Homo sapiens: one gene and its partners. The protein of the gene in region 2 interacts with the protein of the main gene of each other region in a biochemical or structural test. Each region holds a gene or a part of one and is shown on either strand. Other genes may lie near its edges.

Region 1 (7,025 bases), on a different chromosome or scaffold from region 2:
AGGCCCCTCATTCATCATGATTGCTTCCTGAGTTCCTGTTTTCCCACACAGTTACATTTCTTCCCTGCTATATAAACCCCTAATTTTAGTGGGTCAGGGAGATGGAGTTGAGACTAATCTCTCATCTTCTTGGCTACAGCTCCCAATTAAAGGCTTCTTCCCTGGCAATACTTGTTGTCTCCCTGTTTGGCTTTCTGTGTGGCTACCAGGAGGACCTAGGCCAAACCCCTGGTGCTTCAGTAACAGATTTTTGTGGCTGGGTTGCTGTGGTCTAGGAGTCTCAGAAGCCCTCCTAAGCAACTGCCCACCCAATTTTGGCTGGAAGTGAGTTTTGGTCTCTCTGGCCCTGCTGCTGCCAGCCCCAGCTGAGTTCCTGATTGCTAGGAAGAACAGCCTTTGAAATGTGACACTGGCATCTGGATAAGTGAGTGTCCTTTCTTGGCCCAGACAGCAAGATCTGCTCAATTTGAAAATTTTAAAAGGAGCTTCCATTTGCAGGTTAAACCAGCCCAACTGACTAAGAAAGGGAAGCACCCTGACTCTCAGTATGATACTCTAGAGAGCGTGTTTGTAATTTCTGTGTTTGTGTCTGGCCAAGTTAGTGTCTTTTTTGGGTACCAGACAGTGGGATCGGCTTCTCTCAATTTGGAAAATTCCTAAGAAATTTCTGTTTGCAGGTTAATAAAGCCCGATTGAGAGAGAAAAGCACCTCGACTGTTTCAGTTTGGACACTGTTCGGGCTTGTCTATTGCTTCAGCAGTCGGATTGTGTTTTGTTGATTGTATGTGTCAATATAGTAATGGGAAATTAGAATTCAACAAACAAATATTCTTTTGTACTACGTTTGCCCCAATATTCTTTGGAATCTGGAGTTGGCTGTTGAATGGGAAAGCCAGGTGGAGTCCCATGTATTCTGGCTTTTATGCCGCTGTTTTAAGCAGGGTTGGGCCTGGTGAGTAGTTTCCACATGACGTTCTTCTGTAGTGCTGTTTGGCCCCAGGTTTCTTTGGAATCTAGCTTCTAAAAATCAAACTGCCATGGAAACTGCTTTACCCAAAATTCTGGTTCACAGCCTTCATTGGATTACCGATTGGAGCAAACAAATTTTAGCCATGTGGACTTGGTTGTAGATTCGTGAGTTTGTATTGCTATCTCATGGCTAGAGTTCCAAGGTAAAAGCTGTTGGATCTTTGTGTGTGTATACATGTTTAGATGTGTTTATCTAGATGTACATTAACTATGTTATACACTATACCTACCAAATTGGCTTATAAATAAGAGTGCTCATAAATTAAGTCCAAAGTGTTTTTCAAGTTCACATGACTTCAGTAAATCTTTAATAAACAAGCTGTCTTTAAAATTATTGGTAAAATAAAAATAGAAATGTCTTCAGAATTGTCAGCATACATTTTTGTCTCGGCTTTATATTTGTCTCAGCTAGATAATTTGAGGTATCAGAGTTTGGCAGCAGGTTATAAAGCTATAAACCCAGTGAATATTTGTGTGAATTCTTTATAAGACTAATTTAATGCTGTTAGTTTAATGAAAACAGCTGAATCTTCTGAGTTATTGATCAAAATGCCCACGTATTAATTTTAAGGTTATTTAGGTGAACACCTGACATTCACAGGTTATAAAATGGTTAAGAAGGAAATGATGCAGAAATAATCTAGATAAACTGCTAAAAATAAATAAAATGTAAATGGTCAAATGCTGTAAATGAACTTTTGGCATAATCGGAAATATAATCATTGGATGTTTGAGTCATTTCCAATTAAGAAAAGGTTATGATGTGGGGAACATGTTTCTAAAAATTGTGGAATGGTTCTCATCTATAAAATACTAATATCTGCTAGGCAGCTCAAGATTTCTTGCTTCCTAGGTTTTTACTGAAATTTAAGGTTGTTACTAAGGATAAGAATTCTAGTTCATATGTAATTCTATATATAAAATGTGCAAAAGACAATGTGTTTTTATTCAGAAAAAAATTTTATCTAACTCAGAAGTTATCTAAAGTTTATTAATAATTATGGACTTGAAAGGTTACTTATGAAACAAGGTAGAAAAGAACAAGTAGACGAGAGAGATGTGGAGAAAGTTATGAGTATAAAGATGTATTTTTGGTAAGGAAGGTTATAAAGAAAATAATTTTGTATGACAAAGCATCTTATAATGGTATTTTTTTTGTCCTAAAGTAAAATGACTGTTTAAAAAAAAAAAAAGAAGAAGAAAAAGAACGAAAATCCAGGACAAATCAGAAAGTCTAAGCATATCATAGATGGTGTGTGTAAGTCATGTAGTTTCTTTCCTATTTCTTTGTGTGTCTACCTTTATGTACAGACAGAGAAAATACAAAGTATAAAAGGCTTAAATAATATTCTCTTAAAACCAGATAGAATATTGGAGAAATCTGGCTAATTAACACTGCTCATAGTTAAAGCTCTTAGTCTTGATGAAAGTAAAATAAGAAATATTGTAAAGAAACACATTGGCAGTTTGGCAATCCTTTCTTAATATAGTTAACCATGAAGCCAGATAAAAGCCAGATATAGCAACAACCAAATTTCACCTACATGCTTGCATTGCTTCACACTGTATTTGCTCTTCTGCATAGATATACTATCATTACAGTATAATACTTACTGGTCGGCCTCCTCCAGAGTAGCTGGGATTATAGTTGTGTGCCATCATGCCTGGCCAATTTTTGTATTTTTAGTAGAGATGGGGTTTTACCATGTTGGCCAGGCTGGTCTCAAACTCCTGGCCTCAAGTGATTCACCCATCTTGGCCTCCCAAAGTGCTGAGATTACAGGCCTGAGCCACCACGCCCAGCCTAAAGTGAATTTCTTAATTGCACAAAATATATAGTGGTATTGGTGAACTTAAAGACATTAAATTGTGCATCAGGAACAAAATATTCATCATGTGTTTTTTTGGCTCTGGGTAACACTATAGCCTCCAAGTTAAACTGAGTAGAAAATTTTCAGGTTGGTTTCCTGTTTGTTTTTTCTTTTAATTTGCATTTATTTGCTGTTTCTTCTTCTTTAGGTTTTACTTATATATACATATTAATAAAACCATTGATGGCTTTTAGTTTCTAATGTAAGGAAGGCTTTTATTTGGTTCCATGAATAATCATTTTGTTTCCTATGCATTTCCAGTATCTCATCATTTGCTCTACTTATCCAAAGTTCCTAAGCTACCTTTTTCAAGCTTCCAAAAATTGTTGGTGGACACCAGCCTTTAAAATTTGTTTGGTTTTGCTTACCTCTAATGAACTAGAGAGCTATAAGAACTTTAAGATTCCTGGCAAAAAATAATAAAAGGTTTATTCTTCTAAGTTCTGAACAGAAATAGTACATTATTATTGGTTATTTGGAAAAGTAGGTGAGAGAAATGTTTAAGTGGTGTTTATTTCCAAGGTAATTCAATTCAATAAACAATAGCGGTTTCAGATCTTTTCCTTTAATGAGGCAAAACTGCTATATGGGTACAAAGTCTTAATATTCAGAAAAAAATTGGCTTTGTCTTTAAGGAAATTATATTGATTGGGCTTTCTCTCAAACTAATTTAGTTGTGTTTACTATTATTAAGATTAAATAACATTTACTTGGATTAAGTCATAAAAAAAATTATAAGACTTTCTAGTGTTTTTTTTATCCTAAGCCATTTATCACTGATGGGCCTTCACATGTATACTTGAAAACAAAATATGTACATACAAGTGTTATGCCAGTTTGAAGATTCTAGTGGTGTAAGTCACTTAAATCAGTTGTCAGTACTTTATCTAGAAACCAATCTTGGAAATGTATGATGAGGCTCTTTCAAAATAGCTGAAAAGAAATTACTGTGTGCTTATTGTCACTTTGTCCTTGTTTTGTTGTATACTTTTTAAATGAAAGATTTATCTTCATATTGAATTTCCAAAACTGATACTTGCATTTACCATTTTTTTTTTTAATGATGGAAAGAAAAGTTAACTATCTTACTTTGGTAAGTTTGGCACAGGACTTACCACATTTTTGAGGCTCTAGGTCACAGTTTTGTCACTAGAATGCTAGCAGATAAATGCAAGGAGTAACCTAACCACTTTAATACAATGGATTGTATAATGGGTTGAAGTGTTTCAGACAGTAACTACTAGGCACCAAATCCCAGGGTTTTATTTTGTGACATATTAGAGAGAATGATGAGGTTTCCTGCAGTATAAATATGCTATTAAATAATTCTTAGGAAACAATTATTTAGTAATTCAAAGGCCTTTGACTCCTGGATCCAAAAAAGACACCAATACCTGCTAAATCTTGAGCACTGACACCAAATGAAGCCTCGTCTTCAGACTCAGGAGAAGGTGACAATCAAAATGAACTGCTTTCATGAGACATAGGGCTAGAAATTAAAACCATTCAATCCCTCTACGCCCAGGAACTATTGCACAAAAGGTGAGCACGTGAGCTTGTAAGGGCTGATTTTGAGTTATAAAATTAGTTCAGGGTTTTTCTATAAATTAAACATTAACATCAAAAGCACACTGATGCAAGGCCAATGTCTGGGCCCCTGTGTCATAACAGGGTTTTCTTGGAGCATTACTCTACTCTTTAATAGGAAATCGTAAAACGTTATAAAAAGATGGCTGGGTGTGGTGGCTCAGGCTGGGCGTGGTGGCTCAGGCCGGGGCTGGTGACTCAGGCCGGGTGTGGTGGCTCACGCCTGTAATCCCAGCACTTTGGGAGGCCGAGGCAGGCGGATCAGCTGAGGCCACGAGTTGGAGACCAGCCTGGCCAACATGGTGAAACCCCGTCTCTACTAAAAATACAAAAATTAGCCAAGTGTGGTGGCATGGCCTGTAATCCCAGCTACTAGGGAGGTTGAGGCAGGAGAATTGCTTGAACCCAGGAGGCAGAGGTTGCAGTGAGCCAAGATCGCACCACTGTAGCCTGGGCAACAGAGCCAGACACCATCTCAAAAAAAAAAAAAAAAAAAAAAACTTCACAGAAATCCTATCTTATAGTCAAACTGATTAAAATTCGGCTTATAAGGTTTTATTAAAATTAGCTTTAACATTAAAAATATACCATACAAAGGTAAAATTTGATGTTCTCTTTTGAATAAAATGTTTGTATAATATTGACATAAAATATTTGTTTACCTTTTGAGTGAACTGTGGGGGGAAGAAAAGGAAGAGGGAGAGACATTTAGTTGGCCTCATGCTGTCTTTATTAGGCCTTATTGTTGGGAAACTGAGTCGCCTATCAAAGGGTAAATGTGTTTGTTTTATCTTTTTGGCTAAATGAATAACTATTTTGTAGCGACCTGTGATCCTATTTTGTGATATCAAGTGTCTTAAATCTTTGATACTGACAGACTTCCCAACAGCAAATATTTCAAGTTCTAAATTCAGGGGGTTTTTTTTAACCTCAAACTAACTTTTTTGTGTATTAGCTTCCTTGAATTCCAATACAGACAGACATGTTAGGCTTCTTTGGTATATTAGAATTATACAGGCAGCATTATCAAATGTGAGGTGGTATTTAACTTCCTTTGGGTTATATTTGTATAGATGTGCTATTAATATGTGTTGCAGGACTATATGAGATTCCTAAAATTCTGATATGTCTTAATATATGGTGTCAGTAATGATGATTATTATGTTAAATTGTTGTATGCCAACAGAAAAAAAAATTTCCTTGTCAACTGTGTCTTTATGGCTCTCCTAAGACTTTTGTCATTGCAATTGTTGTTTTGCATTGATTCTTTTCAAAAAGTGACTTATAATCAGATATAGTCCAGAGCTTGTTTATTTAGGGGACTTCATGAAAAGGAGTCTTGAATGCAGATTTCTGATAACTTTGGAGACTGTGCCACTGGAATACAGAAAACTTCTAGGACTCTTAATTAGAGTCCCTCTTAATTAAAAGGCTGACATGTTTATAAAGATTACTAACCCAATATGAAACACAGCAGGAGTTGATTGCATGGACTGAACTAATGTGGGACTGAAATAATTTTTTATGGTTTTGTTTGAAAAAGTCTGGAGAATTTTTGTTTTTTGGAATCTGGAGAATTTTTTCTTTTAAGCTCTTCATAACCTTTAAGAATACAGTATATTAAGTAGAGTATACCCTTTTAAACAGAATTTGAGGCATTTTCTCTCTCCCTAATTTCTCCAGAATTTATAAACTATTTGTGAATATTCTTAGTTCATGGCAATGTGTTTTCTTGCATACATTTAATAAAAATCTGTTTTCTTTTATAAGGGGACACAGTTGGAGGAACAAGTTATTTTCCCAGGGCTTTGACTGAAATGGCCTTGTGAGAGGTTCCAGCAAAGCCAATTAGGAGAGCCCATATGGACAATAATTTTTGCTGCACTTTGTGTGGGTAAATAAGCCAAGTATATGTAACTGAGGCTTATTTTGCAGGTAGGCCCATCCAGCTGTGATATGTCTTTGGTGGAAGCGGGGAACAGTAATGATACAGATTGTGTCTCAGAAGAAAACTATAGTATTAGATTAACTTTTGATTCCTGGATGGCCACGTGGTCACCCATAGTATGGAACTGCCCACCACGCCATTCCTCAGCATGAAGCTGCCAGAAAGATTGAGGATCAGATTCCCCATGATCCAGGAATTGATAAATAGAAAGAGGGGGACTGAAACCAACACAATAGTCCCATATACAATTCTTTCGAATAAACATGGAAATTGACCCTCCTGATCTTAAAGCTGAAACTTATATTTGTTTTATCTGAGTTCCTTCCCCAGGAAAAGGACCCCCAGGCCTCTCAAAAGGTATAAAAGAACTGAAACTCATCAGACCATCACATCCAGACAATGAGACACCAGGCCCCTCATTTATCATGATTGCTTCCTTACCCCTCCAGAGTCCATTTTCCAACACCTAGTTATATTTCTTTCCTTCTATCCATACCCCTAATTTCAACGGGTCAGGGAGATGGATTTGAGACTGATCTCCTACCTCCTTTGCTGCAGCTCCCAATTAAAGCCTTGGCAAAACTTGTTGT
Region 2 (7,863 bases):
TCTTCTGCACCCGCCCATGAGCAGTACATCTCGTCTCATCCTCCTCGGCGGCTTCAGCAGCTACAAGGAATGTCCCGCAACACTCTGGAGCCCTTTTCCTTCACCTCATCTCAGCCGCTCCTGTGAACTCACCCTGGCCCTGTCACCAGCTCTAAAATCTCCATTCTAGGCATCGATTCTTCCTTCTCTGACCACTGCCTTCGTGCCCTCTCCTGTTCCAGCCACCTCTGTCTCAGTCCTCCCACCTCACCGACCCCCAGCCGTGCACTCTCCCATCCCTCCCTGCCCATCAGGCCTCCTGGCCACCCCTTCCCTTCCTGTCCCATCCAGCGTCCCTGCGCCATCCTCCATCCACGCCTTAGCCCCAGGCCTCCTCTGTCCCCGAATGATTCCACATCCTGTCTTCGCTGCTGAAATGGGTTTTGTCAAGGGCACGGACCACCTCCACAGTACCGATGCTGAAGGTCATTTCTGTCCTCGTACTGAGCCTCTGATCAGCATGGGCATCCTGCCCGTTCTCTTCCTGGCACCCCTGTCTCCAGGTGCCACACAGGGCTGCCATTCCCCCGACCTTCCCCATCTCCCTGGGAGCTCCAGCTTGGAACCTTCTCTTCCTCCTAGCGCTAATGATTCCCAGCTCTCGACTTCCAGCTCCCCGCTCCTGAGCTTTGGAGCTCACAGCAAGCTCCGCCTCCCGGGTTCACGCCATTCTCCAGCCTCAGCCACCAGAGGAGCTGGGACTACAGGCGCCCGCCACCAGGCCTGGCTAATTTTTTGTATTTTTAGTAGAGACAGGGTTTCACCATGTTAGCCAGGATGGTCTCAATCTCCTGACCTCGTGATCCACCGGCCTCCGCCTCCCAAAGTGCTGGGATTACAGGCGTGAGCCACTGCACCCGGTGGTGGCCAGGCTGCGGGGGGTCCGGCCCCCTCCTGCTCCTGGCGGCAGCACCCACTTGAGGAGGTGACCCTCACTCATGGTGCACAAGCTGCAAACACAACAGCCCTTGGTCTGGCAGAAGAGCTCCAGCAGCTGCCCGGGGCGGGGTCAGCGCGCGGCAGGGCTGGGGCCAGGGTCCCAGGTGCCACAGGCCCGTCCCCTGGTTTGTCCCACTGGCCACTGTGACCTCTATATGTCCAAGGCCAAACTCTGCCCTCCACCTACGCCTCTCAGGACATAGCACCCCAGCCACCTGCGTGCTCAAGACAGAAACCCAGGTGTCTCCCTTGCCGCCCTCTCTGCTGTCCCCCGTGTCCCCTCTGGCCTGCTTTCGCCTCCACAAGGTACCACTTCCCCTCAGCGTTTCTCATCTCCTCCTCCATCTTGGTCTCCCTTCCCTGATCCCCAGCTGGTTCTTTGCCTCCCTGCACTCCTACCCGATTCGGGTCTTACATCCTGCCCCCTTCAGCCCCCAGCCAGGTGATCAGTCTCCATGAAGCCCAAATCTGATCATGTGCCAACCTGCTTCCAAGCCTATAATGGCCCCCATGACCCTACAGTAAGAGCCAGACTCCCCCAGGACCCTGCCCGATCCTGCCCCTGCTGACCCCCAGGGCCTGGCCCACAGATCTCAGTGGCACAAATCTGCCACTAGGGACCCCGCGTGCCCAGTTCTTTCCCATCCCAGAGACGGGACCAGGCTGATTCCTCTGCCTAGAATGCTCTTCCCCAGGTCTTTCTCCTGGCTTGCGCTTCCTCAATCCTCACATGCCAGCCTGAAGGCGGCCTCCCCTTCCTCCTCCTGGCCCGTTTAGCAGGGTCACCCCAACCCCTCTATCACATGCCATGTGCTTTCCTCACTGCATTTTGTAATAATACATTCACGCCTTACTGGAACACTGACTTCTTAAGTGGATTCTAAGTCTCTTAAGGGCAGGGAGCTCGTCTGATCCATTTACCAACAGCCCCCATAGCCCCCTCGCCCTCCACAACCCCGCACAGCGAATGAAAGGAGGCTCTCGGAGCGCAGGAGACACACGACGGTTCTCTAGCGCTTGGGCACGGAGCAGGGAGCTGCTGCCTCACGCCCAGGCTTTGTTCATCCAGAGGGCACCGAGCAGCTTCTGAGACCCACCCTGTGTCACTGGCCGGGCTGCATATCCCAGTCTGATGCACAGACCCACGATTTTTTGTTTGTTTATTTTCTGAGACGGAGTCTCGCTCTGTCGCCCAGACTGGAGTGCAGTGGCACGATCTCGGCTTACTGCAAGCTCCACTTCCCGGGTTCACGCCATTCTCCTGCCTCAGCCTCCCGAGTAGATGGGACTACAGGCGCCCGCCACCACGCCCGGCTAACTTTTTGTATTTTTAGTAGAGACCGGGTTTCACCGTGTTAGCCAGGATGGTCTCGATCTCCTGACCTCGTGATCCGCCCGCCTCGGCCTCCCAAAGTGCTGGGATTACAGTCGTGAGCCACTGCGCCTGGCAGACCCACGACTTTTATAATCAGCTCCCAGGTTGGGAGAAGCCCCTTACAGATGAGGCTCCCCGCCCCCGCCGGGTGCCCGAGAGAGCAGGGCGCGGCCCGCAGGAGTCACCCGGCGGTGGCCAGGCTGCGGCGGGTCCGGACCCCTCCCGCTCCCGGCGGATGCGTCACCTCGCGCTTGAGGCGCTCGGCATCCAGCAGCGCCCGCTCGTGGAGGCGACACTCGCGCACGGTGCACACGCTGCACACACAGCGGCCCTCGGTCCGGCAGAAGAGCTCCAGCGGCCGCCCGTGGCGGGGGCAGCGCGCGGCAGGGTCGGGGCCGGGGCCGGGATCGGGGCCGGGATCCCGGGCGGGCCCGGCGCGCACCACCTCCAGCACGCCGCTGAGGGCCACGTTGCGGCGCAGCTCGGCGCCGTCGGGAAAGGGCTCCCGGCACTCGGGGCACGCCTTTCCGCAGCGGTCCCACCAGTCCCGGATGCAGGCCCCGCAGAAGTTGTGGCCGCAGGGCAGCGTCACTGGGTCCTGGTAGAGCCCCAGGCAGATGGCGCAGGTCAGCTTCTCCTCCAGCAGCTGCGCGGCCATGGCCCGGCGGCGGCGAGAGCCAGGCGGGCCCCGGGCGTCTTAAAGGGACCGCGGGCCTCGCGCGCTGAGGGCGCCTGGGCGTGGCTAACGCGGGGCGGGGCGAGATCCGGGCGGGGCGGGGCGAGATCCGCGCCCGGGAAGGCGGAGGGGGGCGGCAGGCCCTTCTCTGACACCCTCGACGAGCGACCGCCGCAGGGGCCTAGGCCACCCCTGCCCACCTCGGCCTGGCCCGCTCGAAGGTTCCGCGTTCCCGCCTTGCGCCCCTCCCTCCGTTAGGGTCCACGCCACCCCGGCTGAGAGCTGAGTTCGGCTCTCTAGGGTCCCAGCCTGGCGGGTCCATCCCACCCCCCTGGGCCTTCAGCCCAGGTCCTGGAGACCAGAGGCTCGAAAACCCCGCCAGGACTCCGGGCTTCTGACCACGGGCCGCGCGGAACCTCTTCTGGACTCATCTGCCAGTCGCCTAACAGCATAGACCCCCACCCCCAACAATCCCCCGGGGCTTGGCGATGAAACGGGCTGGCGGGCTCCCTGCAGACCCGAGCACTGCTGCACTTTTTCCTGGAGCTGGGTTTCGGACACTTGCCAGACTGGGGTGTCTCCCTTCTCTGGGCTACACGTAATTTTGGTTCTTTTAAAGTAAACAGCGAGATGGAAATGTCTGGTCACCAAGAGACAGGGACCAGTTAACTGGTATTTTTCAAATGGCCCTGAATGAATACACAAACCAGCTTTCATCTGCAATCAGCATCCCCTCTTCCTGCTGCCCTCCGCTGGGGAGAGTTCCTTGCCTGGGGTCCAAGCTGATCTGCAGCCTCAGTATTTACAGGCACTCCAGCATTTCCCCTGAAGCTGAGCAGGCAAGGCGGGTCTGGGGCCTAGCGCCCACCTACCTGACAGTGTGTATCAGGCCAGGGGGAACCCCAGGAGAGTACGGCCTTTCTAACCAAGCTGGGCTGATGTTGAGGCGGCACGAGCTCTCACTGCTGCAGCAAGCACTGCGTCCTCTGTGCGGCCATAGACGAAGTTTCTTTCTGGACAAAGTGCACGGATCTACCCTCCACCTACTAGTTAGCCAGACTTCTGCTTTTGGTAAGGGAGAAACAAAACACCTAACCATCCAGCCGCAAGACTCCATGGGTTTTCTGACCCTGAGCAGGTCTCTTGAGACACGCTGTTGCCTACCTAATGTGGCTTCTCCTCCCAAGCATGGGGTGGGGGCTGGAGCCTGTGCAGAGGGTCAGTGCTCGGGCAGGCACTCTCTCTCCAGGGGCCGGTGGGACCCCCCTGAGGCACAGAGCCAGTGCTCAATAAATGCTCCTTCCTGAGCCCAGCTGCTCTGCTCCACTTTTTCGGGGAGCTGGGTTTCAGGAACCTGCTGGATTGGGATGTCTCCCTTCCCTGGGCCACACCTGTTTTTGGCCCACTGCCTGCTTTTGCTTCGGATCCCAGGGCCCCTGACACCCTCAGAAGACGGAGGTGAGGACGCACTTAGTGGGGTGGGAGGCAGCCCGTTTCCCACCCATGAAGCTCCATCGGGGTCCTCTGGCCCTGGAGCACCGACCCAGGCCAGCTATGGCAGAAATCCCTTTTTTTAAAAAATACAGGCAGGGTCTCATTATATTGCCAGCTGGTCTTGAACTCCTGGGCTCAAGCGACCCTCCCTTCTCAGCCTCCCAGTGTTGGAATTACAGGTGTGAGCCACCAAGCCCGGCAAGAAATCATGTTTATTCACATTCCCCACCCCACCACCTGAGAGTCACTTTCACTCCAAGCCCTGGGCCTGACGGGAGGGGGCCAAAGAGGGGGGCTGCCTAAGGCAGGGCCCAGACCCCACAGTGTGGGCCTCTGGAGCTGTGTCTTTACTCTTGCTGCCGATCAATCCCATGCTCTGAAATGCGCACACTCTGGCTCCTTAGTAGATGCCATAGGTGGGCTCATGACTGTCCCTGTACCGGTCCAGGTAGCGCAGGGGCTGCCGGTGGGGGAAGCGCTTCTGCTTGGGGTGGTAAGGGGGCGGCCGCACGAACTCAAACACCGGCTCCCGCATGTCTGCAAGAAGAGTGAGGGGTACGGGGTGGTCTGCTGGCCTGCGCCCCCTCAGGCTGAGGCCTGCCCACCAGGGACCTGCCGCAGCCTTCCCCTAACAAAGCTTCTCCCTGGCAGGGCAGGCGAGGCCTGGGAGCTCAGGCCCACCCAGTGCCCCAGCCCCATGGCCCTTACCCAGAAGCTGGTGGAAGATGTAGGTGACGGAGTCATCCCAGCGGCACTGGAAGAAGGACAAGCCGGCTGGAGTCATGGTTTCTTGGTGTTTCTTGTAGAAATCAAAAGTGCGGAAGGTCCGCTGGGCCAGCTGATAGCTATGAGAAGATAGAGAGCGTATGAGAGTGTGGAGTGGGGCACCAGAGCCCCTCACCCCGCCACCCCAACAGGTAACCCTGAGAGGCCCCTGGGAGTCTGCTAGCACCCTATCCTGCTCTTCTGCCAGTCTCAAGGCTGAGGTCAAGAGAGAACTGAGCAAGAGTGACCGTTCCAGGGGAGCTGGCCTGAGGCCGGGTTATGTGTGGGTGGTGTAGATTACCAGGGTGAGGGGCGTGCGTCCTCAGAGAAGTCAATCGGCTGGTCCTGCTTGAAGAGCAGGAAGGCAAGACGGTGGATGCCGGAGCCTCGGGCAGGGAAGGGGGGGAGGTAGGGACACGTCACCTGTCCTTCAGCCACCCGGTTACCCGGGATGTTGGTTCTGGGAGGAGGAAAGTCCCGGTTAATTACCACTCCAGGGAGGCAGCAGGAGTGTCCCCTCAGCTCCATGCACACCCTAGAGGCTGACATGACTCCCTGGGAGGACAGCTCTAAGCATCTCTCTCCTGGGACAGAGGAGGCAGCCAAGCTCTGTGAACGCCGGGACATGCTGCAAATACGGGAAGCGGGCTGGAGGAGCTCCGAGTGGGGGACAGGGCTCCAGAGAGCATCAGCTTGACAGCAAGGCCATGCAGCCGCTTCCAGGCCCCGGGAGCCGGTGGGTCCGCCACAGTCACTGAGGCTAGAAAGCCAGGCCACTTTTGGCTGCTTTTCCCTCTGCGTCCTGAAGTCTCCAGGACCTCGTCAGGGAGTGTGTGCCCAGCCTGGCACAGGGGCGGCCAACGCCTCAGGCACAAATCCCCAGAGGGTCCTGCCGCATAGGCTGGTAACAGTTGAATAAAAATGACGGAAACCAGCCTCCCAGTCACTGTCCCCAGTTAACCAGAAGGCTCAAAGTTGGGGTCACTGGCCTGACCTCTGCCCCCTGGCCTGGTGTTCAGAGCCAAAAGCTACCAAGATGGAAGGCCGCCCAGTCTGGGCCCAGGGAAGGAGCGCCCAGTGGTTCAAGGAGCACCTGGGGGACGCCACAGCTGCTAGGCCTCTCCCGCTCCTTCTCCCACGTGACTGTCACAGTCCACCTCACGCTGAGTAAGGCATGTGGTGCCATTATCCCAGTTTTACAGGTGAAGAAATGAGTTTAGAGACGAAGGGCCCAGGCATGGTGGCTCACGCTTATAATCCTAGCACTTTGGGAGGCGGAGGCGGGCAGATCGCTTGAGCTCAGGAGACCAGCCTGGGCAACATGGTGAAACCCTGTCTCTATAAAAAAATACAAAAATTAGCTGGGTGTAGTGGTTTGCACCTGTAGTCCCAGCTACTCAGGAGACTGAGGTGGGAAGAGCACCTGAGCCCAGGAGTTAGCGGCTGCAATTAGCCATGATTGCACCACTGTACTCCAGCCTGGGGGACAGAGTGAGACCCTGTCTCAAAAAAAAAAAAAAAAAAGAAAAGAAAAGATGAGGAGGCTTGTGGGGACTGACCGAGGCCTACTGCAAACTTTGTCTCCTGTAGCTGTCTTCAAGTAGACACGTGGATCCCAGGGCCCCTAACACCCTCAGGAGGCAGAGGTGGCAGGTGAATTCAAGGTCCCATGGGTAGTCCATGAAACTCAGGAGCAGCTCAGTCCAGGCTCCCAGCTCCTCTTCCCGCCTGGGCAGCACCCCCTACCCCCAGTACTCCAGTACTCACAGCAGCCAGTGGAGGTACTCAGCATCTGGCTCCAGCAGGTGCCCATCTGCACAAAAACACACCTGCTGACCACGGCCCAGCCGACCACGGCCCTGCCACCCCCTCCCTTGTTAGGAGCCAGCGCTGGAGATCTCCACCTGGCCCCTCCCCCAGCCCCCCAGGGCCCTGGCTCATAGGAGGTGAGCGGGGCAGGAGGCCTGGTGAGCCCCAGACACCCACCCAAGCTAGTGAGTAGCAACGTCCACAAGGAGCCCTCTTCTGCCTCATAGGTCACCTCTGGCGCTTGGGCAGCCTGGCAGGGTGAGAAGGAAGCTGTCAGCCCCACCAGGGACAGGCCAGCTGTTGCAGGGAGCCTTGGAGAAAGGGGTGCCCACTCTGACCCAAAAGCCCTTGACAACCCCTGGCACAGGCAGGCAGGCAAAGGGATGCGTAGAGAAGCAGCCCTGCAGAGTTGCCTGTCCAGGCAACAACCACAAAAACGAACATGTGCCAAGGCCGGGCCAGGAGGGCACACCACAGACAGCAGGCTGGTCACAGGAATGTGCTAAGACAGAGCCTCTTTTTCCTTCATTTTGTTCTATTTTCTTTGAAATTGTCATGGTGTCGTCTTCCAGGAAATCAAAGAGACAGAGAACAACAAAATTCCAAACCCAGGAGTGTCTGTGACACTGAGATGGGATGTGTCTGTGTTTGCACAGGGCAGGGAGGAGGGGCACAAGTGAGTGGTTACCTCGGTTGGAGTCACCTCATTGCCACAGTACACAGGCATCAGGTCATCCTCACCCACAGCGTAGGCCACGTGCAGGGG
Region 3 (7,025 bases), on a different chromosome or scaffold from region 2:
ATAATTGTCTCACTTTTTGACTTTCCCTTGCTAGAGCTGAGCTAGTCAAAGTATAAAGGTAATATTTGAATGGGATGTCCATCAACATGATTATGGATAGGCATCAATATTGATGACATGCTGAGAAACAGAAATACTATTTCTATTTCTTTTCTTTCTTTCTTTTCAATGTAATATACATTATCTTTTGCCTTTCAGTCTTCCCCACAGGCATTGGCAGAAAAATACAAATTTGCTGCCAAGGTAGTTGCCAGGGCAACCTTCAAATACAATTTTCTATTTGTCATATAAACACTGAATATCTTTTAAAAATCCTGATGATTTCTATTAATGGAATACGTTCAAGCTAAGACAAAATGAAACAAATAAAAAATCCAGCCAAATGCAAAAGAAATCTAGTTCAAAATACCCAGAAAAATATCCATTTTTTGGTCTTCATTAAAATTTAGCTAGTTTAAACTATATTCAGTTTGGGGGCATGAGTTTCTAGCTGAGCGCTTAATATTCTTTGATTGTTCATTTAAATAATGAGTAAAAAGTAGCAACTGTGTAAGTGGCTAATTTGATAAAGCAATTAGAAAATAAAGCAATGTGTGTGAGACAGAGTCAAAAAGTAGAGAAGCAGGTTTGATGTGTCTTTAAAAGGTCACAATTAATTAACAAAAGAATTACAGAAATGTTAGGGGACCAATTTCCCAGGGCTAGGCTTAATTAAAGGTGGCCCAGAGGCATTAAGGATTAAAGAAAATAGGGATGAGTAAATTCAACCTACTCATAACTGAGATTGCAATCTGTCCAGAATCATCCCCAACCTCATTGGAAGCACTGATTACATATACCCCTGAATCATTTTGAGTGACATGATACAAAGTAAATGTTCCCTTCTTTGAACACATAGTAACTTCATTGGCTAGATCAATTCTTTTCAGGATAATCACTGCAGGTGGATGACTAGAAGTTTCATATATAATCGTGATGTTTTCCCCTTCTTTAACATTTCTAGATGGATGTATAGCTATACAGCTATTCTCATGTTTTGAGGAGGTACTGTGAAGATGGAAAACATACATACGGTAAGGCTTGCCATTTTGAGAAATTTGGGTAGACGAACAAAAATTTTACCTGTTTCTGATGTAGATTCAAATTTTCTCTGCATTGACAAGTGATTGCTCACTCCAATAGCCAAGTGCCAGACCTCTTAAGACTTGGCATTTGTTTGCAGTCCTGTTTGCACTCCACCGCCAAGTATGGCCTCCATTACACAATAGCAGCTAATTGGTGTGCAAGGGGTGTGATACTGATCAGCCAAGGCTGATGTATTTTGTTTACACCAATAAGATCAGCAGATCCTACCTACTGTGCATTCACAAGAGGGCTTAGGAGATTAAGGGGCCCCTGAAGTTTCTCCAATGAGGATACTGCTCCTCTCTTTCTCTGTCCACCAGAATAGAGTAGGATGGCAAGTGGGTTGGAATTTTAATGAGGCTTTTCGATAGTCGAGAGATTTTTTTATGTTGTTCAGGATCAAGTTTACTATTCCCAATTATTATCCTGAAAAGAGTCAATCCAGAAAATTGCAGTTACTCCATGTTCAGAAAATAGTGTTTCCTTCTGGTAGAAAGGAAGAGGGTCTGGATAGAACCCTTCTTTTTCAATGTGCCAATCCTACTTCTTTAGTTTCCTTATAACCTCCCGGGAAAAGGTTTGAAAATATGGTTAAACATTTAGCAACTGCAAGACCTCAGAGACAAATGATAAATTGTAAACTGAAAAAAGCAAGCAGGAATTCCTCAGTCACGAATGATTAATGTCAACTTCCTGGCTAAACTTTATAGGATAAAGCAGCTGTGCTTGATTTTTCCAAGAATCCTTAAGAAATAAACCACAGCTCCATTTTGCCAACTCATTCATCAAATATTGGAAACTCTTAGTAATCCTTGGAACCTCTGAACTATTACCAAGAAAACAAAAACTCAAAACAAACTCACCTTGAACATCAAGTGTTAAACTTCTTAATTGTGAGCCAACTTTGTTTTTAGATTCACATTCATATACTCCCGCATCCTTCAACTGGGCCTTTCGGATGGTATAGGCGCCATCTATAGATTTTAGTACTGTGTCTCCTGTCTCCGCTTTTTTCTTCAGGATTATCCATGTTTCTGGAACATTTCCACATGTACAAGAGATGATGACAGTGTCTCCTTCTTTGACACTCTCAGAAGGAAAAGCTGTAAGTTTTATGTCTTTTGGAGTAACTGTAAAGAGAATTTAAAAGACATCCCTGATTGAGTGAAATATAAACCAACTCCATATTAATTTAGCGACATCAACAATAGCTTCCCTGGAGCTATTTGTGCTTAGCGTTTGCATTAAATGTTAAGAAGGGCAAGTAAAGAAGTCAAGCATTGCTGGATTGTTGGAAATGATCATGTTTTAACTAAGAGAGTACATGGCTTATGCTTCTTTCATGTTCCTTAATATAATTATTTACCCAGCCTAGCACAAAGAATAGGTGTTTGATATGGTTTGGCTCTGTGTCCCCATCCAGGTCTCAACTTGAATTGTAATCCTCACGTTTTGAGGGAGGAACCTGGTGAGAGGTGACTGGATCATGGGGGCTGTTTCCCCCATGCTGTTCTCATGATAGTTAATGAGTTTTTACGAGAACTTTTGGTTTTAAAGTGTGGCACTTCCTCACTCTCTCTTGCCTGCCGCCATGTTAAGGTGTGCCTTGCTTCCCTTTCTCCTCTGCCATGATTGCACATTTTGTGAGGTCTTCCCAGCCATGTGGAACTGTATTAAACCTCTTTTATAAATTACCAATCTCAAGTAGTATCTTTATAGCAGTGTGAAAATTGACAAATACAGTGTTTGATAAAGAGCTATAGAATTCAGATGTGAAATAGAAACTTAATTTTTTGTAATACTGTTTTGAAAAAATTTCCTTGAAGTACAAAGGCCTTTACAGGTTTCTGAGTTTTGAGTTGGATTCTTCAATCAAGAAGTTAAGCTGTACAGATGTGGCTTTTTCACTATCCTTAACAATACTACTGCCATTTATTAAGTTCCAAGCACTGAGCTAAGTACTTGACATATAACATCTCTATTAATGCAACAACCACTGGAGGCAGGTACCATATCACCAATTTTTAATCCCTATTAAGGTCTTCTATTTTGTAAGTTGATTTGAAATTCTTTCCCCATCCAAGGTCATGACAACCATCCAAAAGGTTTTTTTGTTTGTTTGTCTGTTTTTTAAGGATGTGTATTGTCTTTCCAATATTCTTCTTCTAAAATACAAATCTTATTGAGTTGAGATAACAAGAAAGTCACTAATATCTTAGTGGGAATAATGCCAAGGGGTAATAGACAAAATGACAACCCTGGCAAAGAAAAGAACCCTGATACCCAAAAGGGATGGGATAGAGGAAATCCACATTGATCACCTGATGATTTTGCTCATAACTCCGTATGGCTTCAACCTGCGAACTAATAATTGTCTTGTTCTCAATCTTGGGTCTCCATCCTAAAGAGAAGGGGCCTAGATCTGTTGACTTAATCTACTTTAGTGCTTCCATGCTCTCAGGCTGATGAACCAAAGGACGGAGTCATGGCTACTCATAATCTCAGAATTTGCAAAAGACTTAAGTGCCAGCTTAGGCTTCTAAGCAAATACTACTGGCCATCTTGTGAGATTGCCACTCAGAGTTCAATTCAGCCAGATATGGTAGCTTTAATCCTACATAATCCCAAATGCAGATATTCCTCTTCCTATTCTTATTTCAATACCATAACCATTGCCTCATAAGTGTAACTGGAACTTCTGACACAGGTCCTGAAGGCTTGCATTTCACTTGAGTTTAAAAGAATCTCAGGATAAGAAACTTGTAACAATTCATGAGAAAAGACAATTTCAGGAGATTTCTCCATACATTGGAAACATCATAAACTCTTCAAAACCCTCATCACACTTTTGTAGTAAAAATTTTGTTTTCAAAGACTTTACTCATAATCAGTAACATAACCAAAAACATTACTAGCAAGGATAACTCATTACTCACACTCTGCTCACCTTGGATAATTAATTCCACTTCCTTTCTGCTTCTTCCAGCCTGGTTAATTCCTTCACATAAATAAACCCCAGAATCTTCCATTTTTGTAGAAATTAAGGTGAGAGTTGCATTCTCAGAAAGAGGCTGTAGCTCCCCGTTAGGGAGCTGCCTGCTCCACAGGATTTTCGGAGCAGGAAAGCCCTGGCTCAAGCATGTCATATTCACAGAACTGCCTTCCTCCAGGATGGAGGAAGGGCTGACCAAGACGGTTGTATCTCTGGGGGCAACTGAAAAGGCAGAGACGCTTGTTAGCTTGACCTATTATGCCCTGAGTTCCAAAGAGTTTTAATAATGTTGCAAAACTGGGCTATGGATTCAGCAGACTCAAAGAGTTTGTAAACCTTGATAATTCACCACAAGAGGTTTTGGTCCTCATTTACTTTAGCTGATACCAAATGATAGAGTAGAACATGGACACGTCATGGTGTTTTCTAATGGAAGTAAGTTCAGTATACACTTCCTTGCAACCAAAGAATGACGAGGGTCAATGATAGTGTGTACTGCCATTTATGGTAGAGTCAACATGACTGTGAATTATTTGAATCTCCTTCTGTGAAAAGATGTGGTCTATTTTTCCACCCCTTGAATCTCTAGGCTGGCCTCATGACTCACTTTGACCAATTGAATGTGGAAGAAGAAGTAACACTGTAGGACTTCCAAACCCAGGCCTTGAAGAGGCTGCTTTCATTTACACCTTCTTGAAACACTGAGCTCTGGAGAGTAAATCTAGGCTACTGTTCCTCAGGGTGACACCACATAAAGAAAGAGAGGCCAAGTCATCCAAGATATGGCTCCAGACATGTGGGTGAAGTCATCTGAGACCAGCCAGCCCTGCTAACCTTACTGAAAATGCACGAGTGAGCTCAGCTAATACCATATTGAACAGAATAACTGCCTAGCTGGTCCCTTCCTAAATTGCCTACTCAAAGCATCATAAGCCAGTAAATAGTTACTATTTTAAGTTTAGGGAGGGTGATTTGTTACAATCATCATTATTTTGAAATTTCTTTTCAGTAACGTTTTTTCTCCACAGAGGTTTTAACGATTAACCTTATGTTAACTATTGCCTGGCAAACACGATAAAGAGACAGGTATTAAACTGTAGATACCTCACATATGTACTTACCATTGACATAAAGTGTTTGCGTACTCTGCCTTTGTTTGGGTTCGAATTCCATGTCATCAATATGTAACTTAGCCTGACAAACAAGAGCTTTTCCAGTATCTTCAATGGTAGGGATGAAGGTCATTTCCAAACTTTTGTTCTCTAGAGATTTCATATCCGTATCCTCCAAAAACTCTATATTCTCCAGAATAGTCTCCCCCTTAAGTAATTCAATCTCCAGCCGGTCAAGGGGGTACACGCTAGGAACCTTGCAGCTTACAGTGACAGAGCTCCCATTCACGAGGCCACCACTCATCTCGATTTCTGGATCTCTAGGGAATGCTGCAAATCGCAAGCAAAAACGATTTTTATTCTTGATATTCAAGGAAAAATTGAGCTAAGCTTTATTAAATGTAAAGGCCTAAAAATGACAGCTTTAAGTCACCTGGGATAGAATGACTGTCAATATATAAGTAATGACAGTATTTATAAATGACATATTTATGATATTATATATGAATAATGTTAGAAACAAAAACTACTTAGTATATCCAGTCATTGAGTAATAAATTTTCACTTATTTCTTTTCTTCTTAATATGCAATCTTGCTGTGTGCCATGGCTTGACCTTTTCTAAGTATACATCAGTTTCCACCATCTTATTTAGTAAGTATATATTTCACATTTTAAAATTTGCCATGTTATGTTGAATACTTATTGTAAACTAGTCCCCTAATATTCATTATCTCAGTCTTCAAAGCAGCTGTGTAAAATGAGTATTACTTATTTTACAGCCAGGAATACTGAAACATATAGAGGCTAAGAGACTTTCTTCACACATTATACCTAGTAAGTCACTGAGATGGGCTGCAAATCCATATTTCTCTGACCTCAGAGCCCAGCTTTGGTTTTACAGAGCTGTGCAGTCTCTCAGTATCAAATAAGACAAACAAGGAAGTTCTCAACTTAGTTTAAATTTTAATGACCAAATTTAGGCAGCAAGTTTTAAATATTTCTCAGATAATACTTGTAATCAAGAACTGCCTTAACTGTATTCTTTATAATACAGTACAAATCAGTAAAATGAGACTAAGATAGCTATCAAGGGCAAGAATAATGCTTAAACATTTTTTTCCTTAACCAAAATGTTGTTAAAGTGATACATGCTCAAATATTTCTATGTTGCAATAAGACCCCACTGCTGGTTCTCATTTCTGCTGGGAATGTGCCTATCTCAGCAGATCATGGACTCTGGGTAATATGATAATGCAAATAAAATTTATCTTTCTTTGGAGAGACCCAAATCCCTTTACAGGCATACTCTAACTCATTCTGAACAAAATCCTGAAGGGTAACACAAGTTTGGGCAGGGTTTCTGGTAGAAAATCTCTACGATATGTTCTCTTGAGTTCTACTGAATAAAACAAGGCAGAGTGACCCCCTCAAAAAAAAATAACTTTATGGTCACTTTGCATATTTTGTTCTTCATTCAATATGGACTGAGGAACTCCAGCAATGTCAAGTTCATAGAGATTTGAGGTTGCAAAGAATGTTTATTAAGACAAAAGAAGAGTGAGAGAAAGTGTAGTATATGTAGGTGGCATAAATCAACATTAAGATCTAGCGCTGCTTCCTGATTCTGCTTTTCACCTGAGCCACTGACACTGACCATCCCCATCCCCAATCTAACTTCTTATCTTTAATTTTGGCTTCCTTCTGCTTCCTATTCCCTTATTTTTTTCCCATCCTGCAGACAGCTCATCAAATGTGCCTTTAAAACAGTGCCTTAAAACAGTTTAAAACTACTCA
Region 4 (7,025 bases), on a different chromosome or scaffold from region 2:
AAATTATGTAGAGTAGACACAACATTCAGAGATGCAATTATAGGCTCCAAAATATAATTTATTACTGGGATTAAGGACTAATTCCAATCTAATAATCAAGGAACATGACTAAGGATGCTCCCAGCTTTATGTGTAGATGCCTGCTTTATGTGTAGAAGAAGGTGGTAGTATGATCCACGGATGTCAAGTTGACCTTTGATATGCCTCATGTAACATGGTTATCTCAAAATCATTCTCTGTCAATGATGGTAAATTGTTATACTCTTTCCATGTCAGTTTTCCACTTGGAAAATGGAATTTAAGGAATGAATATCAATACACCTTTTTCTCTGTTATTACACCAACTTGATTTAGAAGCTCCTTTTTCCTATATTAGGACAAATGTTGCTGATTGTGGGTTAATGAGATCCATAATAAAACAATGTTAAAATGCTATATTTAGCAAGCAATGCTACATATTACTTTCATGAAATTTTATACCACATATTTATGCTACAATTTAATGCTACATATTTTTTACATGAAAAAGAGTTCTACGTTGAATAAAGTGAAAGGGAAAAATAATTGCATAAATATTGAAAAATGTCTCTTTTCCAGCTATGTGCCAATCTTGATGCATTTACTATTAAAACTGTTAAAGAAAACCTTGATCAACTGAAAAACCAAATACAGGAGCCATGCAAGAAGTTTGCCATTGCAGATGCAACCAGAGAAGTATGGGCTTAATGTTTTATATCTATTGATTGACAATACTACATTCAGTAGAAAGATGGCAAAGGCTATTTTATACTGACCATCTGAAAAATATTATTTAAAAATTTTAGCAAACAAGTTTCAGGTTTTTTTTTAATTGATGTTAGGCAGTAAAGCACTACAGTGAATTCTCGCCTCTAGACCTCTTTTAGTTTTCTAATTTACATGAGGAATAGCTTATTCATTGTTTGTACATATGAGTTAAAAGGGACAGTGAGGGGCCATGGGCAGAGGGATGTGTAACTAAGCTGGAGGGGTTATGACAGTTCGTTTTAGCCTTTTTAATTTTCTTCGTGAATTCCAGGATTGATTTTCTGACATTCCACAGAGCCATTTTGTTGCTATCAAATTACATTTGGCAATGATAATGGGAATCCTATCTAATTTGCATACTTGCATATTTACTTTCTTAGGAAAACAGTGCAATGGTAAAGAAGTGAAATATTTACTTTAATGATGCTTTTCTGATGAATTTTTCAGGAATTATAAGAATAAACTGAGAGTCAATTTGGACATTATGGCCAGTAAATTATGTCAATACTTTATTTTGTAAAATTTAGAAAGCATTACAAATTCTGGCCATATGTACTTGATAATACCATTGAAAATAAGAATGTTGGGATCAAATGATATGAAATATGCATAGTAGATAAAACAATGCTTGAAATATAGTAGGCACTAAACCAATGTTAGTAACTAGCCTCCGTATATCTCTTTTTTTAAATTCTGAAAAAGACTGCTATCTACTCCAGCTGCACTAGCACAGTTGAATATATTTTATTCACTTTCCTTTTTTTGTTACTTATTTGGTTTTACTTGATAATTTTAAATGCATGTTTCTACTCATAAAGATTTTTAAAACTAAATTTCTCAGGTACATTTTTTAAAAGAATTTGCCATTTTTTAAACTTACTTTAATTTTTTTATATACCTTGAAGCATAACATACATACAGAAAAGTACAAATTCATATGTGTACTGATTGCTGAATTTTCCTAAACTGAATACACATATGTAAACAAAATCCAAATCAAGAGACAGCACACTGCCAGTATCCTAAAAGCTCCTGGCTCCCCCTTCCAGTCACCATGCCCCAGGAATCACTACTATCTTGACTTCTAAAACAAAAAATGAGTTTTCACTGATTCTGAACTTTATATAAATGGAATCATATAGCATGCACTCCTTTATTTCTGGCTTTATTCAGACTCTACTTCAACTTTTTATTTTGGTCGAAATAATACTGAAACCAGTTTTACAAAGGAGGAATGTTTCTTAAATTACACTGTAAGCTTTCTAAATAATTGTGGCATTAATGCAATATGTGTTTTCTAAGTTACCTTTAACATACAAGGTTTATATAATTCATTAACTTTACTTTTGTTAACCTTTTAAGTTGGAGATTCCAGCAGAGGTAACAGGGTGTTGGTGTGGGTGTGGCTTGATGGCAGGCTTAAAAGAGAAGCTGACAAAAATAAATGTACAGACAAGTGATGGGACACTAACCTGTTACTTTGTCTAAACAAAGATGAATCAGATTTATTATAACCTAGAAATTATTCTAACAAAGATAATGTTATTCCTTTAACAATAAGAATACATAAGAATAAGTGTGTACTTTATTTTTAGGATCCATTTAAAGAGAAACTTCTAGAAATAATGACAAGGATTCAAACTTATTGTCAAATGAGTCCAATGTCAGATTTTGGAACTCAACCCTATGAACAATGGGCCATTCAAATGGAAAAAAAAGGTAATTTAGGTTTGGACCTAACACTTAGTTTATCCCATGTTTATACCAAGATTTTAGATGACTATATCACAGATTCCCCAAAAAATGGAAAGCAAAAGTAGTTCCAAATAGAATTTCTGTGTTCTCTGTAGGACAAGCATAATAAACATGTTCTAATTCCTTTTCTAAGGAGAGAGATTCCAATGCTATCCAATTTTCTCTTTGTCTCCAGAGTCTTGAGATAAACTTTAATAGCTCTGTCTCCAAAGGCAAACTCAACTAATATATTTTCATGCCATTTCTCTGTGCATCAGCTACATGTTTTTGCTGAGGCAGAACTCAAGCAGCAAGTCTAGGAGTTGGAAAACTTGCCCTGTTTCAGAGCTCAGGACACATTTTGAGCCTTAACTTGCCCATTTTAAAACCAAGGTGAAGCCAGTTTTGCAGTTAGTAACATATATTCAAGTCCATGGCACAATTTTAGGGGGTTTATATGCTTATTATTTCACTTACATAATATATTTTTTCACAGCTGCAAAAGAAGGAAATCGCAAAGAACGTGTTTGTGCAGAACATTTGAGGAAGTACAATGAGGCCCTACAAATTAATGACACAATTCGAATGATAGATGCGTATACTCATCTTGAAACTTTCTATAATGAAGAGAAAGATAAGAAGTTTGCAGTCATAGAAGATGATAGTGATGAGGGTGGTGATGATGAGTATTGTGATGGTGATGAAGATGAGGATGATTTAAAGAAACCTTTGAAACTGGATGAAACAGATAGATTTCTCATGACTTTATTTTTTGGTAAGATTCAAAGTAACATATACTGGTGTCATTCATTTACCTTTTCAACATGAACTTACTGCTTCTCATAAGCTCTCCAAAAAGAGAAATATCTTTTGAAAGAAGAAATCCCACTCAGATTGGAACTATTTCTAATGATATGACCAGATTAGCTACCAGTTGTATGATCACAGTCAGTCATTTGGTCATTCAGTTTTATTGTCAAGACAATTGTAATGAATTTATTTATTAAACCATCCTAATTATTAGATATAGCGCAAGATTGTAGATGAGCCACAATTCATGAAACCTTCTAGTGTAATTCGTTGTATGTTTTACTAATTTATACTTCCAAATAGTTTTTAAATTAATTAATTTTTAATCAATAAAACTGTATATTTTTGGTGTACAAAATGTTTGATATATCTGTACATTGTGGAGTGGCTAAATCAAGCTTGTTAACATATCAACTCTAATTATTTCTTAAAGAAAACAATAAAATGTTGAAAAGGCTGGCTGAAAACCCAGAATATGAAAATGAAAAGCTGACCAAATTAAGAAATACCATAATGGAGCAATATACTAGGACTGAGGAATCAGCACGAGGAATAATCTTTACAAAAACACGACAGAGTGCATATGCGCTTTCCCAGTGGATTACTGAAAATGAAAAATTTGCTGAAGTAGGAGTCAAAGCCCACCATCTGATTGGAGCTGGACACAGCAGTGAGTTCAAACCCATGACACAGGTATAAATATCCTTTTGGACGACTTCTTTTCTTTTCTTTCTCTTTTCTTCTTCTCTTCTCTTCTTCTCTTCTTCTTTTCTTTCAGACGAGGCCTCGCTCTGTCACTCAGGCTGAAGAGCAGTGGCATGATCAAGATTCACTGCACCCTTGACCTCCTAGGCTCAAGCAATCCTCCAGCCCCAGCCTCCTGAGCAGCTGGGACTCTAGGTGTGCACCACCACACCCAACTAATTTTTTTATCTTTTTTGTAGAAAAGGTGTCCCACTATGTTGTCCTGGCTTGTCTTAAACTCCTGGGCTCAAGCCATCCTTCTGCCTCTGCCTTCCAAAGTATTGAGATTATAGGCACGAGCCACTGCGCTCAGCCTGGACTTCTTTTCTTATGCTGTTATTACTCTTCTCAAATTGTTTTTAGTCTTTTTCTACCAATCCTCTCACCACCCATGAATACATTTACAGGATAAAACACCTGTTCTTGAAATAAAATCTAAGGCTAATAGCAATCAAATCTGTGGTTTTTGAGAGGTTAAGTGTTGTTTTAGGAGTCATTTTTCCCACATAATAATTGGAAGAACTTTCTAAGTTTCCCTTGCAAAAATAAGTGACATGTAAGCTTAACAACAAAGTTCAGAAATGATTGCCATGTAGTATCAAGTGGAAAATTCAAACTCCCACAAAAATGTGTTCGTTATAACTAGAACTATGCAAAATATATTTACATAGAATGAGACCTCTAGGGAAACTTGAAAAAACTAAAGAATTTGATATATTAGAGATTTGGGATTCTGGTAAGTAGGTTTTCTGTTCCATTTTAAGGTGTTTTGTTTTACTTTGTTTACATGTTGCTTACTGTGGGCATAGTAAAAAAACACTTGGGTAAGAAAAAAAGGCACTAGTAGACATTACAAGCATGCATGAAGCAATGATGCCTTGTTAGAGTAAAATATTCTTCTGAGGGCTAAAATCACATTGACCCTGAGTCTTTCTGGACAAATGGATACTTCCTTTCTATTATAGTTATCACTATTCAAGCCAATGGAGCAAATTAATTCTGTTTCAGTGTTTGCTGGAAAAAAATTCTTGAAATGGTTCACTATAACTCTTTATATACCCTCTACATGCACTCCTGTGAGCATTGCCAATAAAATTAATGCCAGAGAAAGTACTGTTTTCCTTGGGTAACAAGTTTGCTTCCTTCTTTTTGATGAGATGTAGTTTGCTTTATATGTTTTTCTTTTTGCCTTAGCTTCCAGAAAGCTAGCAGGAAAAACTCAAGTTCAGTCTCACAGCCTCTGTGTTGATTCTTATGAGTTCTGTTTTTAAATTTCTATTATATTAACTTTAGCGTTGTGACTTTTATTGTAAGAGGGCTAAGCTTCTCTGTAAAAAGAGGTAGAGTGCAAATGAAAAGCCTATGTTCAAGCTACTTTCTGCTCCTTATTCATTTCAAACCAAGGGGCTGTGTGCCAAAATACAGAACATATTCCCTTCCTTCCCCACTCCTTGTATCCTCACCTTGTAAACTGGGGTGGACAAACTCCTTAGCAATGGTGTTAGGCATCTATGTGATGTGACTTGAAGATCTGACACTGTCTGGAATTTTTGTTATTAAAGTTACTCCTTCAAATTAAGACACAGGCATCTTCTGCTAAAATCCAAGAACATGTAAGTTTTTATCGGGAGATGTGAGGGCCGGAGGGAGAAATTTTCAGAGAAGACTCAAGAGAGGCCTTTCTACAGGGTTCTCCGACAGTTAGGAGTAGGAGTCAAATAAGGACTCACACTGCCTCTGAGAAGAAAGGGAAGGGGATGGAAGAACATACTTTTGGTCTGGCAGCTTTATTTTTGTTTAATGTATGGGGGCAATAGACAGTGTGGATGTGCACCAAATGCCAACTGGACCAACAGCTTTGATGAGAGTGGTTATGAAAATAAAACCACATTGTCCATATCAAGCTAGGTTTGTGCTCACTCATTTCTCCCATGTAAGGATGAGAGGTCATATTTTAATTTATTTATATTGACTTTCAAAATTCAGAGTTTTTTCATTTGAAAATAGTTTTATTTACAGTTGCATAACCTCTTCTTTCATTTTTATTTATATTGTCCCTTTGAATTGATAATATATTTACCTCATTCAAAATTAATGAGGCACAAGGCATACCACTGACCTCTAGTCTTCCAGCTCCCCTCCCTAGATGCAGCTGATGTTTTCAGTTTCTCTTGTGTCCTTTTGGGAATATTCCATAGCTTCTAACTCAAATGATTCTTAAAGTGACCAAATGCATATACAGTGTGCATTTTCTCTGTGACTGAAAACAATATATCAAAGCATCTCTGCATCTTATCCTCTAAATAGCAAAGATTCTGAAGTTAATGTAGTGGGGGAAAAAAGCCCATTTTAGCTTCTGATTGTCATATCCTCTTCTCAACCGACAGCTCCTCCTTTCTTCCTCTGGAGTCACCCATCAATTTATTTCCTTGGCATAAAATGTGGTCTTCCCACCTCCAGACTGGATGATGGAAATATTTTTGTTATTGTGTGGTAATCCCAGATTGGAAATCAAATGTTGTCTCACCATTATGTCTTTGTTCAATGCCAAAAACAGATGGCAACAAATCCATGTATGATCTAATCCTTTGATTTACACTGACCAGTTGCAATTTATTATTTCTTCCTCTAATTAGAAGATTTTAATGTGTTTAGCATCACAAAATTTAATTTATTAAAATGTTTCTACAGAATGAACAAAAAGAAGTCATTAGTAAATTTCGCACTGGAAAAATAAATCTGCTTATCGCTACCACAGTGGCAGAAGAAGGTCTGGATATTAAAGAATGTAACATTGTTATCCGTTATGGTCTCGTCACCAATGAAATAGCCATGGTCCAGGTACATTCAAATACCTCTACTTACTATGTTAATTTTTATTTGTTGTGTTCCTATTTTAATTGCTTTCTTTTAGTTAAACAGCAAAAACATCTTTTTAGTTTTTAAAACAA

The links.
Region 1: of the proteins of TRIM65 (region 2) and RIGI, one has a biochemical effect on the other in vitro, tested with the Homo sapiens proteins (one study listed by BioGRID).
Region 3: the proteins of TRIM65 (region 2) and VCAM1 form a complex in vitro, tested with the Homo sapiens proteins (one study listed by BioGRID).
Region 4: of the proteins of TRIM65 (region 2) and IFIH1, one has a biochemical effect on the other in vitro, tested with the Homo sapiens proteins (2 studies listed by BioGRID, with this or other methods).

The regions. Positions count from the first base shown.
Region 1 is NC_000009.12:32,516,176-32,523,200, forward strand, and holds part of RIGI (antiviral innate immune response receptor RIG-I), read right to left. Parts: intron 1-7,025.
Region 2 is NC_000017.11:75,893,927-75,901,789, forward strand, and holds the start of TRIM65 (E3 ubiquitin-protein ligase TRIM65), read right to left. Parts: upstream 3,026-7,863; 5' UTR 3,012-3,025; coding exon 2,598-3,011; intron 1-2,597. Other genes in the region: MRPL38 (large ribosomal subunit protein mL38 precursor), read right to left, coding at 4,924-5,060, 5,232-5,368, 5,590-5,748, 7,056-7,101, 7,275-7,347, 7,786-7,863. UniProt on the Homo sapiens protein: E3 ubiquitin ligase that plays a role in several processes including innate immnity, autophagy or inflammation.
Region 3 is NC_000001.11:100,729,732-100,736,756, reverse strand, and holds part of VCAM1 (vascular cell adhesion protein 1 isoform a precursor), read right to left. Parts: intron 5,560-7,025; coding exon 5,239-5,559; intron 4,340-5,238; coding exon 4,073-4,339; intron 2,256-4,072; coding exon 1,989-2,255; intron 1-1,988. UniProt on the Homo sapiens protein: Cell adhesion glycoprotein predominantly expressed on the surface of endothelial cells that plays an important role in immune surveillance and inflammation.
Region 4 is NC_000002.12:162,273,685-162,280,709, reverse strand, and holds part of IFIH1 (interferon-induced helicase C domain-containing protein 1), read left to right. Parts: intron 1-597; coding exon 598-714; intron 715-2,381; coding exon 2,382-2,505; intron 2,506-3,016; coding exon 3,017-3,295; intron 3,296-3,763; coding exon 3,764-4,023; intron 4,024-6,765; coding exon 6,766-6,915; intron 6,916-7,025.